Regions from separate parts of the Homo sapiens genome. Here region 1 is linked to region 2. The links come from fine-mapping of genetic effects on gene expression. Tissue or cell type: whole blood. Region 2 holds a variant in brackets; the other region holds the start of a gene. All regions are shown on one strand. Distances are from middle to middle.

Region 1 (5,861 bases), 21 kb before region 2:
ATTCTCTTAACTGGATATGCTGAACATTTATTGAAGACTTAATGGGTGGAATGAATTGTATTAAGGGCATCCCATCTCTAATTTCAGGAGAGTGAATCTATCTCTTGAGCTGCCTGATAATTCGGTGCCTCCCTCACAAGAGCTCTTCCAGGAGTTCACTTCACAAATGTGTACTGAGTTCCCACTCTGTGTTAACCAGAATGGTTCCAGCGATGTCTGCAGGAAACAACGTCTGCTTGGAGGAGTTCAGAGGGTACTGGAGGGAGGAAGCACAGTTGGAGCTAGACGCTTTCTTCAGGAGCTTACCTGTAAAGGGCAAGAGAGAGATGATGGCAGTTGGAAGGAGATGTGGGAGCCAGTGTTTTTTCCTTTTCTCTTTTAGTTGGGAAAGATGTCAGTGTACTTGTAGGCTGTTAGGAATGAACCAATAGAGAGGGAAAAGATAGATCCAGGGGGCAGGGGAGGTGTAATTAATTACAGGAGTCAAGACCAAATGGGTGAGGGGAACACAGAACCAGCCAGAGCTTGGGAGGAGGTGACTTTAAATATGAGGCTGGGCCGGGCACAGTGGTTCCTGCCTGTAATCCCAGTGAGGTGGGAGGACGGCTTCAGCCCAGGAGTTCGAGACCAGGTTGGTAAGATGCAGTCTAAAAAAAATAAGCCAGGCGCTGGTGGCGCACACCTGTAATCCCAGCACTTCGGGAGGCCAAAGCAGGTGGATCACTTGAGGTCAGGAGTTCAAGACCAGCCTGGCCAACATGGTGAAACCCCATCTCTACTAAAAATACAAAAAAAAAAAAAAAATTAGCCGGGCATTGTGGCACACGCCTGTAATCCCAGCTACTTGAACCTAGGAAGCGGAGGTTGCAGTGAGCTGAGATTGCACCACTGCACTCCAGCCTGGGCAGCAGAGTGAGACTCTGTCTCAAAAAAAAAAAATAAACAGGGCAGGCACGGTGGCTCCGCCTGTAATCCCAGCACTCTGGGAGGTCGAGGCGGGAGGATCACAAGGTGAGGAGTTCGAGACCAGCCTGGCCAATATGGTGAAACCCCGTTTCTACTAAAAATACGAAAAAAATTAGCCGAGCGTGGTGGTGCACGCCTGTAATCCCAGCTACTCGGGAGGCTGAGGCAAGAGAATTCGTTGAACCCGGGAGGCGGGAGGTTGCAGTGAGCCAAGATTGCGTCACTGCACTCCAGCCTGGGCAACAGAGTGAGACTCCATCTCAAAAAAAATAAAAATAAAAATAGGCTGCACGCTGATGACTCGTATCTGTAATCCCAGCACTTTGGGAGAGCAAGAGTGAAACTTTGTCCCAAAAACATGGTTTTTTTTGTTTGTTTGTGACAAGGTCTCACTCTGTTGCCCAGGCTGGAATGCAGTGGTTCGATCTCGGCTCACTGTAACCTCCACCTCCCGGGCTCAAGCCTCAGCCTCCCGAGTAGCTGGGATTACAGGCATGTGCCACCACGCCCGACTAATTTTTGTGTTTTTAGTATAGACAGAGTTTCACCATGTTGGCCAGGCTGGTCTCCAACTCCCGACCTCAGGTGATCCACCCGCCTCGGCCTCCTAAAGTGCTGGGATTACAGGTGTGAGTCACGGCGCCCAGCCTCAAAAACATAACCTTAAAAAGAAATTTTTGAGACAGGGTTTCATCCTGTCACCCCGGCTGGAGTGCAGTGGAGCCTCCACCTCCTCGGCTCAAGCAACCATCCCACCTCAGCCTCCCGAGCAGCTGGGACTACAGATGCGCACCACCACTCCCGGTAATCCCGGTTTGTTTGTTTTTTAAATTTTTAAATAAACACGAGGATAAGCGGGGATCGTGGCCCTCGCCTGGGGTCCCTGCTACTTCGCAGGCTAAGGTGGGAGGATCTCTTGAGCCCAAGAGTTCGAAACCAGATTGGGCAAACCTCGTGTCAAAAATATATGTGATAGTCAGGTCCTCCAGGCCGCACCCTAGATCACAGGGTTGTTGGGATGATACAATATGAGGTAAAAGAACGTGAAATTCACACCAGAGCGCTCGAAAGTGCCACCCTAATCGCAGGCTTCCCAACCTAATCGCAGGCTTCCCAACCTAATCGCAGGTGCCCCACCCTAAACGCAGGCTTCCCAACCTAATCGCAGGCGCCCCACCCCAATCGCAGGCTCCCCACACTATAATCAGACGCCCCGCCCGCCGCTTCGACCTGGCGCATGCGTGGTGCGCACGCGTCCCGTCTCCTCGGCCGACAAGCTCTCGCGAGACGAGCCGTGCAGGCTGAAAAAATGGCGCCACCCAGTACCCGGGAGCCCAGGGTCCTGTCGGCGACCAGCGCAACCAAATCCGACGGAGAGATGGTGCTGCCAGGCTTCCCGGACGCCGACAGCTTTGTGAAGGTGAGTTCGCGGGGCCTCGGGGGTACCAGGAGTCGCCCGCGGCCGCCGGAAGCCGACTGGGCCCTCTGGGCAGCCAATGCCCGCCCGCCGTAGTGGAGCCCGAGCGAGGGTCGCGGGGCCCCTGTCCGCGCTGGGCGCAGACTCTCCTGCACCCTCCGGGGATGGGGCCTCGGAAACGGACACTGAGGGGCGTCCCGCTTGCGAGCCTAAGTCCATGGAGGCCCAAATGTGGAAAGCCGTCTCGCATCCTGGGAAAGGCTTCCTTGCCACCCAGACGTCCCTAGCCCTTGCGACGTCGCGCTCGCCACGCCCTAGCCACCCGACCAGCTCTCCGCAGGGGCTCGGCTTCTTCGCGCTCCCCACACTTGCCTGGAGTTGTCTCCTCCCGCGGCCAGTATGGCCCTTCTCTTCCTCTGTTTCTGAAGTCCAGTCCTACATAATTTTTAACCCTGAGTTAAATGTCACCTGTTAAAGCCCCATTGCACGTTTATTAGTAACTCCTGGAAGGTATACAGGGCGTTCACTTAAGATCTTTGTATAACTTAGCTTAAATATGAGCAAACGTACAACTAGGCTTAAGGTGTGCATAGCTCTTACAAAGCAATGAAACTAAAATAATTTGTAAATTAACCCTATAAATTTACAGAAATTCCACTAACGTTGTATCTTATCTAATTTGCTGTTAGCTAATGCTATTGATTCATTAACATGGCTCTCAATAGTTCCTGGACCACTAACTGTGGTCCTGGTTGTGTGGCGGTCATGCTCATAAGCTACCATGTTCCCCTCCGTGACTTAATTTCCCACCTCCTTTCTCTGCTTTTTTCTTGGGAAATGTTTATTCACAAAACTCACAATGACGTTTTAGGCCTTCACATGATCAGCCATCATTTATGTCACTTCACGGCTTTTTTTCGTTACCTCACAACAGTTAAAATAGAGAACCACTTGACACTAACTGAACAATAAACACAAATCCAGTTTTAGATAGTAGCTGTTATAAATTTGTCGTCCAAGGATCTAGGATAAGCTTGTATTGTTTTTAGATGCTCATCCAGATGAAAACACAAAAACAAATTCCTGTAGAAAGCTCTTGGATCTGAACTTGAGTCGTAATAATAACGCTTATGTGCCAAGAACTGTCCTAAGTGCTTTTATTAGCTTATTCATTCTGTCCTCACAAAAACTCTGTGGTGCAGGCCCTTTTTATTTTTCCTGTTTCTCAGAGGAGAACACTAAAGTCCAAATAAAGCAATCACTTGTCCAAGATCTCAGTTAATACGTAGCAGAGTCAAGATTCAACCCCAGGTATTTGTGAATATTAATCAGATTATATACGTATGTATTCTGTCTCTCAACTCTCCCAAGAATATAAGCTCCAAACTTGGTTTCCTGTTCAGTATTGTATTCTCAGGGCCTAGATTAGATTGGGGTTTGGCACTAAATGAGTGCTTTTTTTGATGGATGAAGAGTAGATACCTTGTATACGATAGATCAAAAAAATGACATACCAAATGAATGGGGATCCCTGTGTAAACATGCCATCTTTTCTTGTTTTTGACAGTTTGCTCTTGGGTCCGTGGTGGCAGTCACCAAGGCATCTGGGGGCCTACCACAGTTTGGCGATGAGTATGATTTTTACCGAAGTTTTCCTGGCTTCCAAGCATTTTGCGAAACACAGGGAGACAGGTTGCTTCAGTGGTAAGTACTGTACTTTGTTTTCTTGTGTTAGTGAAAAGAAATGAAAACAAAGAAGTAGATAAATTTTTCCTGAAATTTATTTTTCCTTAAACATTTTCTGTGGTATGAAGAGCTATAAAATGTGAAAATTGAAGCAATGGATTTTGATTAGGGAAATATTACTTGGTATATTTTTAGTTTAGCCTTTAAAAAATGTATTGACTTTTGTACTGAAAAAATATATTGACTTTTGTACAAATCTTTTTTAATTAAATGGGACGTGAACACTTAGAGCCAAGATTCTTTTTTTTTTTTGAGACGGAGTCTCGCTCTATTGCCCAGGCTGGAGTGCGGTGGCATGATCTCGGCTCACTGCAAGCTCCGCCTCCCAGGTTCACGCTATTCTCCTGCCTCAGCCTCCTGAGTAGCTGGGACTACAGGTGCCCGTCAACACGCCCAGCTAATTTTTTGTATTTTTAGTAGAGACAGGGTTTCAACATGTTAGCCAGGATGGTCTCGATCTCCTGACCTCGTGATCCACCTGCCTCGGCCTCCCAAAGTGCTGGGATTACAGGCGTGAGCCACCGCGCCTTGCCAGATCCAAGATTCTTTCCCACAACTTGTAGAGTAGCAGGTATTTTTATTTTTATTTTTATTTTTTTTGAGATGGAGTCTCGCTCCATCACCCAGGCTGGAGTGCATTGGCTCAATCTCGGCTCACTGCAACCTGCGCCTCCCAGGTTCAAGCGATTCTCCTGCCTCAGCCTCCCGAGTAGCTGGGATTATAGGTGTACACCACCACGACCAGCTTTTTTTTTTTTGTTGGGGGGGAGTACGGAGTCTTGCTCTGTCGCCCAGGCTGAAGTGCAGTGGCGTGATCTCGGCTCGCAGCAACCTCCACCTCCCAAGATCAAGCGATTCTTGTGCCTCAGCCTCCCCAGTAGCTGGGATAACAGGCATGTACGACCATTCCCGGCTAATTTTTGTATTTTTAGTAGAGGAGGTTTCACCATGTTGGCCAGGCTGGTCTCGAACTCCTGACCTTGTGATCCACCCACCTCAGCCTCCCATAGTGTTGGGATTACAGGTATAAGCCACTGCGCCTAGCCAGTTTTTTGTATTTTTAGTAGAGATGGGGTTTCACCATGTTGGCCAGGCTGGTCTCGAAGTCGTGACCACTCCTGAAGTGCTAGGATTACAGGTGTGAGCCACTGCGCCCAGCTAGGGTGCAAGTTTTATTGGTTTCATCAAAAAGTATCAGGGGCCAGACATGGCGGCTCATGCCTGTAATCCTAGTGCTTTGGGAGGCAAAGGCAGAAGGATCGCTTGAGCCCAGGAGTTCAAGACCAGCCTGGGCAACGTAGGGAGACTCCATCCCTACAAAAAATTTTTAAAGTAGCTGGGAGTGGTGGTGCACCACTCCCAAGTCACAGCTACTTGGGAGGCTGAGGTGGGAGTATCACTTGAGCCCAGGAGTTCAAGGCTACAGGGAGCTGTGATTGTACTGCTGCATTCCAGCCTGGGTAACAGAGCAAGACCCTGTCTCTTTAAAAAAAAAAAAAAAAAAAAGAAAGAAAGAAAGAAAGAAAAAGGCTGGGCTCATGGCTCACACCTGTAATCCCAGAACTTTGGGAGGCCGAGGCAGGTGGATCACTTCAGGTCAAGAGTTCGAGACCAGCCTGGCCAACGTGGTGAAACGTCATCTTTACTAAAAATACAAAAATTAGCCAGACCTGGTGGCGTGTGCCCATAATCCCAGCTACTCAGGAGGCTGAGGCATGAGAATCGCTTGAAT
Region 2 (5,861 bases):
AGGTACACCTCAGCCGCAGTCACACAGACCGCGACACTTGGGCTCTGTGTCTGGCCAGGTTCTAGTTCTTAGGTTTGCTCCTTACATTCATGAAAAGAGCCAAACATTTTCCAGAGCCCAGGGCACAATTTTGATTCCCGTTGATTTTGAATGTTCTCTAATACTTTGTAGAAATTCATCAAACCTATCTTCACGGATGAGTCCTACCTTGAACTCTATAGGAAGCAGAAGAAGCACCTTAACACACAGCAGTTGACAGCCTTTCAGCTGCTGTTTGCCTGGAGGGATAAAACAGCTCGCAGGGAAGATGAAAGTTACGGGTAAGGGATTAGAGGTTCTTTTAATACTTGTTTCCAGACTGAGGAGATCTAATAACAAGTAAATAATGGGCTTTTTTCTTTTGCTATGAAAGCTGGTTATTTCCCCTATGTGACAGCATCTAATGGAACTTACTGGCTGAATGTAATGTGTCCCCACCGTGTGTGTGTGTGTGTGTGTGTGTGTGTGTGTGTGTGTGTGTTTTTTTTTTTCCAGATATGTACTGCCAAACCACATGATGCTGAAAATAGCTGAAGAACTGCCTAAGTGAGTTTCAAATCTGATTAATATGTTCTGACTTTCTCAGTAGATCTGATGTTCTTCAAAATCAAGCTTTTCTGGTTGCTATTACCCAAGGCTGCTTACTCAGAGATTAATGCTCCAAGCTTGGAAGGTAGCAAGTTGAAGGAATATAGAATTTCTGCCCTCAGGCTGCCATTTAAGCACTAAAACTTCTGAACTGGAATCATTTCAATGATTATGCCTTAGTTTGAGTTTATTTTAAGTCTCTGAGCCTTATAGCATCTACTTGCAAGGGAAGAAAATGTCCCAGATTCTGTCATCTGTACTTTCTTCCAAATTAAAGCAGCTCATGATCTTAAACGTTTTGTGATCTTGATTGAAGTATAAGCAAGAATGAAAATCCACAGCCCGTTGGTTGCCCCCTGCGGAATTGAGAATCCACAGTGCTATGGCACTTACTTTCAGCTCTCCCTGATTGTGGGAGTCAGGCTCCAAGAGGGATCCACTTAAAGCTTGGTGTCGCAAAGAACACATGGAGAAGTTGGCCTAGGCTGGCCTGACATCAGTGTTTCCTTAGTCACCTACCTGTAGCTTCAGCTTAGGTGGCAGCCTGGCTTTACCCAGTCATTATTCTTATCTGGAAGCCTTTAAGGGCTGCGTTTCTGAGTGACAAGTTGAGTGTGTTCTTACTTGTCTTCAGGGAACCTCAGGGCATCATAGCTTGCTGCAACCCAGTACCGCCCCTTGTGCGGCAGCAGATCAACGAAATGCACCTTTTAATCCAGCAGGCCCGAGAGATGCCCCTGCTCAAGGTAAGAAGCTTTTCTGCGGCTGGGCACAGTGGCTCACGCCTATAATCTCAGCACTTTGGGAGGCTGAGGTGGCTGGATCATTTCAGGTCAGGAGTTCGAGACCAGCCTGGCCAACATGGTGAAACCCCGTCTCTACTAAAAATACAAAAAATTAGCCAGGCGTGTGGTGCACGCCTGTAATCCCAGCTACTCCGGAGGCTGAGGCAGGAGAATTGCTTGAATCCGGGAGGCGGAGGTTGCAGTGAGCCGAGATCGCGCCACTGCACTCTAGCCTGGGAGGCAGAGCGAGACTCCGTCTCAAAAAAAAAAAAAAAGATTTTCTACTGAAGGGTCCCAACTTAGCAAGCCTGTTTTTTTTTTGTTTGTTTGTTTTTTGTTTTTTTTAGACGGAGTCTCGCTCTGTCTCCAGGCTGGAGTGCAGTGGCATGATCTCGGCTCACTGCAACCTCCGCCTCCTGGATTCAAGCAGTTCTCCTGACTCAACCTCCTGAGTCGCTGGGATTACAGGCATGCACCACCACGCCTGGCTAATTTTGTATTTTTAGTAGAGGCGGGGTTTCACCATGTTGGCCAGGCTGGTCTCGAACTCCTGACCTCAGGTGATCCACCACCTGGGCCTCCCAAAGTGCTGGGATTACAGGCGTGAGCCATCATGCCCAACTTTAGCAGGCCTGTTTTTTCTGCTAGTGTCTTATTCCTTGTGGCTTCCTAGATTCATGAGCTGGTCTGCATTCTAAACAACCCTAGGGAAATAATAGGGCTTAGGAAATCCAGTGTGTGTGTCTTGATGAATTTAGCTGCTTTTTTTTATGATAGTTGAGAGCTAAGACTCTTTATTTATGACCTTAGCTTTGATGATTCAGCAGCAAGTACTGTCTGGTAACTGGGCCAATTCACTGTTCTAAGGCAGTTAATGTGGTGGAGTGAGATGGAGCGGTGACCTCAGCAGAGGGAGCTAGTTTTGGGAGCCTGGCGATGGCCCAGATGTGAAGTGATAGCTCCCTGAATGAGTGAGGAATCACACACTGAGAAGGAAAGAACAGGTGTAGGAAGCATCAGAAGAAAAGATTGATGAGACTTCGTAGCAAATGCTGACAATGGCAGCCAGTTTTCTTTTGTTTTTTTTGTTGTTGTTGTTGTTTTGAAACAGGGTCAGCCGGGCGCGGTGGCTCACGCCTGTAATCCCAGCACTTTGGGAGGCCGAGGCGGGCGGATCACGAGGTCAGGAGATCGAGACCATCCCGGCTAAAACGGTGAAACCCCGTCTCTACTAAAAATACAAAAAATTAGCCAGGCGTAGTGGCGGGCGCCTGTAGTCCCAGCTACTTGGGAGGCTGAGGCAGGAGAATGGCGTGAACCCGGGAGGCGGAGCTTGCAGTGAGCCGAGATCCCGCCACTGCACTCCAGTCTGGGCGACAGAGCGAGACTCCGTCTCAAAAAAAAAAAGAAACAGGGTCTTGCTCTGACACCCAGGCTGGAGTGCAGTGGTGCAATCATGGCTCACTGTAGCCTCGCATCTGCTAGGCTCCCACCTTAGCCTCCTGAGCAGCTGGGACCACAGGCATACACCACCATACCCAGCTATGTTTTTTTTAATTTTTTGTAGAGATGGGTCTTGCTGTGTTTCCCAGACTGGTCTTGAACCCGTGGGCTCAAGCAGTCCTCCCACCTCAGCCTCCCAAAGTACTGGAATTACAGTTGTGAGCCACCTGCCAGCCCCACATTTGCAATTTTTGTGTTAAAAATGTCTTTGTAAGCTCTGTACTTTGTCCAAGTAAAGAGAGACCTTGATTACTAGAGAAGAGTCTTTTTCAAGCTCTTTGGAATCCTTCCTATTGTGCTTAGTCATGTTAAAGAGCTTTATTCTTTCATTCTACAAATAATTATTGAGCACCAAATAATTATCATGCCAGGCACTGTAAGGAGTGAAGAGAGGAAAGAAAATCTCTGGGCTTTTGAGAAACAGGCTGGTGAAGGAATACAGTCAGCGCTGGAGACTGGGGGTTGGACTTGAGGTGCTTGGGCAACTTTCCTCAATTCCCTTCGTTTTTTTCCTTAGTCTGAAGTTGCAGCCGGAGTGAAGAAGAGCGGACCGCTGCCCAGTGCTGAGGTAGAGTGTCGGATCTGTTTTCTCCCCC[A/G]GGAGGGAAAACGTCAAGTCACAGCCAGTGCAAGTACACCTCTGACAGAGGCCTGTGCTGACAGCTGGCAGAAAGCTACTGCCGGCTTGCACGTTTTACATGCCAGCCTGCTGGTGTCTTTTAATGCAGAGATTGGAGAATGTTCTCTTTGGACCTCACGACTGCTCCCATGCCCCTCCGGATGGCTATCCAATCATCCCAACCAGTGGTAAAGTCGAGAGCCCTCCTGACTGTCCCGAAGAGGTTGGGACACAGCTACCTTGTCTAAAATTCTGTAGGCTTGGCCGGGCGTGGTGGCTTATGCCTGTAATGCCAGCATATTGGAAGGCTGAGGCGGGTAGATCACCTGAGGTCAGGAGTTTGAGACCAGCCTGGCCAACATGGTGAAACCCCATCTCTACTAAAAATACAAAAATTAGCTGGCATGGTGGTGGGCACCTGTAATCTTAGCTACTTAGGAGGCAGAGGCAGGAGAATCACTTGAACCGAGGAGGCGGAGGTTGCAGTGAGCCGAGATTGTGCCATTGTACTCCAGCCTAGGGGACTACACTAAAACTCCATCTCAAAAAGAAAAAATAAACAAAATTCTGTAGGCTTTGACCTTACTATCTTCTGCTCCTCTAGGATCTGTGCCAGTTCAGAAGCAGGCGAGCCTCTTCCCTGATGAAAAAGAAGATAACTTGCTGGGTACCACATGCCTGATTGCCACAGCTGTCATCACGTTATTTAATGTGAGTAGCACAGAAACTTCACTGAGGTGATGAGGACCCCCTGGGATTTACTGGATTTATTCAGCAGGCTGTCTGCCTGGAGCATTGCATACACTCGGAGACTAATGCTGAGAGCAAAACCCAGCAGTGCTGGGAGAGGCATAGAGACCAATGAGCAAGGTGGCACTGACCACTCTGGAGGAGGTGGTCTGGGGACGTGGATGGGGGATTCTCTTGAGCTCTGTGTGAAGAAATCTTCCAGGAAAGGCTGACGTCCTGTTGTTGAACAGCACCTAGTGGGAGGAGGGCCTGCGCTAAGAGAACATACAAGCAGGGCTTTCCAGACAAGCTGCAGTGGTGGTGGAGGAAAAACGGTTCACCTGGATGCCCAGCAGGGGTGGCATGGGTGTACTGTCCGATGAACTGTAGAATGTGCGCTGCCCATAGCTTCCTGCCTGACCCCAGCACCACATATGTGTGCTTTCAGTGAAGAAGAGAAATGATTTTTTTTTTTTTTGAGACAATCTTGTTCTGCCACCAAGGCTGGAATGCAGTGGCACAATCATGGCTCACTGCAGCCTTGACTTCTGAGGCTCAAACGATCCTCCTGCCTCAGCCTCCTGAGTAGCTGGGATTACAGGCATGAGTCACTGTGCCCAGCTATTTCACTTTTTTTGTTTGTTTGGTTTGGTTTTTTGAGATGGAGTTTCGCTCTTGTTGCACAGGCTGGAGTGCAGTGGCATCATCTCGGCTCACTGCAACCTCCACCTCCCAGGTTCAAGCGATTCTCCTGCCTCAGCTTCCCTAGTAGCTGGGATTGCAGGCGCCCGCCACCATACTTAGCTAATATTTTATATTTTTAATAGAGATGGGGCCACTATGTTGGCCAGGCTGGTCTCGAATGCCTGACCTCAGGCGATCCACCCACCTAAGCCTCCCAAAGTGCTGGGATTACAGGCATGAGCCACCACACCCGGCATTTTTTTTTTTTTTTTTTTTTTTTTTTTTTGTGACAGGATCTCATCCTGTCACCCAGGTGGGAGTGCAGTGGCACCATCCTGGCTCACTGCAACCTCTGCCTCCTGGGCTCAAGCAATCCCTCTGCCCCAGCCTTCTCTCGAGTAGCTGGGACTACAGGTGTATGCCACCATGCCCAGCCAATTTTTGTATGTTTTGTAGAGGTGGGGTTTCACCATGTCGCCCAGGCTTCACTTTGGTTTTTAACTTAATTACATAAATCTAGATTGGGCCTTGCTTTAGCAATTAATGAGAAAATACTAGGCGCTTTAGCTGACCTCAGAGCTAATTTGAGTCATGAAGATGATTTAGCAGCTAAGCGTGTTAGCATGAGCTCTGGGCTGCTTTGATACGGAAGTGCTGTTTGGTGTAAAGGAGGCTGTGGTCTCCCTGCACTCTTGTGTTGCAAGGGCGCATAATTACAGATGAAGCAAAAGGATAGCACATATTTATGAACCCAGTTGGAAGCAGCATTTTGTTGCATAATTTCAATGATTCCCTATAAAGATATGTAATACTAAATTTCAGGCCTGGCGTGGTGGCTCACACCTGTAATCCCAGCACTTTTGGAGGGCAAGGCGGGCATATCACCTGAGGTCAGGAGTTTGAGACCAGCCTGGCCA

What was found. PIP is the estimated chance that this variant, and not a neighbour inherited with it, causes the effect.
Region 1: EXOSC10 starts here. The variant in region 2 is fine-mapped to the expression of EXOSC10 in whole blood (TOPMed, PIP above 0.99).

The regions. Positions count from the first base shown.
Region 1 is chr1:11,096,246-11,102,106 of GRCh38, reverse strand. It overlaps EXOSC10 (exosome component 10), which reads left to right and starts at 2,238. Exons shown (of 25, transcript NM_001001998.3): 1 at 2,238-2,386; 2 at 3,951-4,087. The coding sequence starts at 2,276. EXOSC10-AS1 (EXOSC10 antisense RNA 1) reads right to left here and starts at 2,432. Exons shown (of 2, transcript NR_135062.1): 1 at 2,293-2,432; 2 at 2-306. RefSeq lists enhancers at 1,949-2,509, 2,799-2,858, 2,510-3,072 and a silencer at 2,696-2,897.
Region 2 is chr1:11,075,223-11,081,083 of GRCh38, reverse strand. It overlaps EXOSC10 (exosome component 10), which reads left to right. Exons shown (of 25, transcript NM_001001998.3): 11 at 1-2; 12 at 172-320; 13 at 535-585; 14 at 1,262-1,373; 15 at 3,433-3,483; 16 at 3,641-3,719; 17 at 4,136-4,242. Among named protein-coding and RNA genes, the nearest start is that of SRM, 18 kb to the right of the region's middle. The variant A/G (reference allele first, on the strand shown) is at 3,512.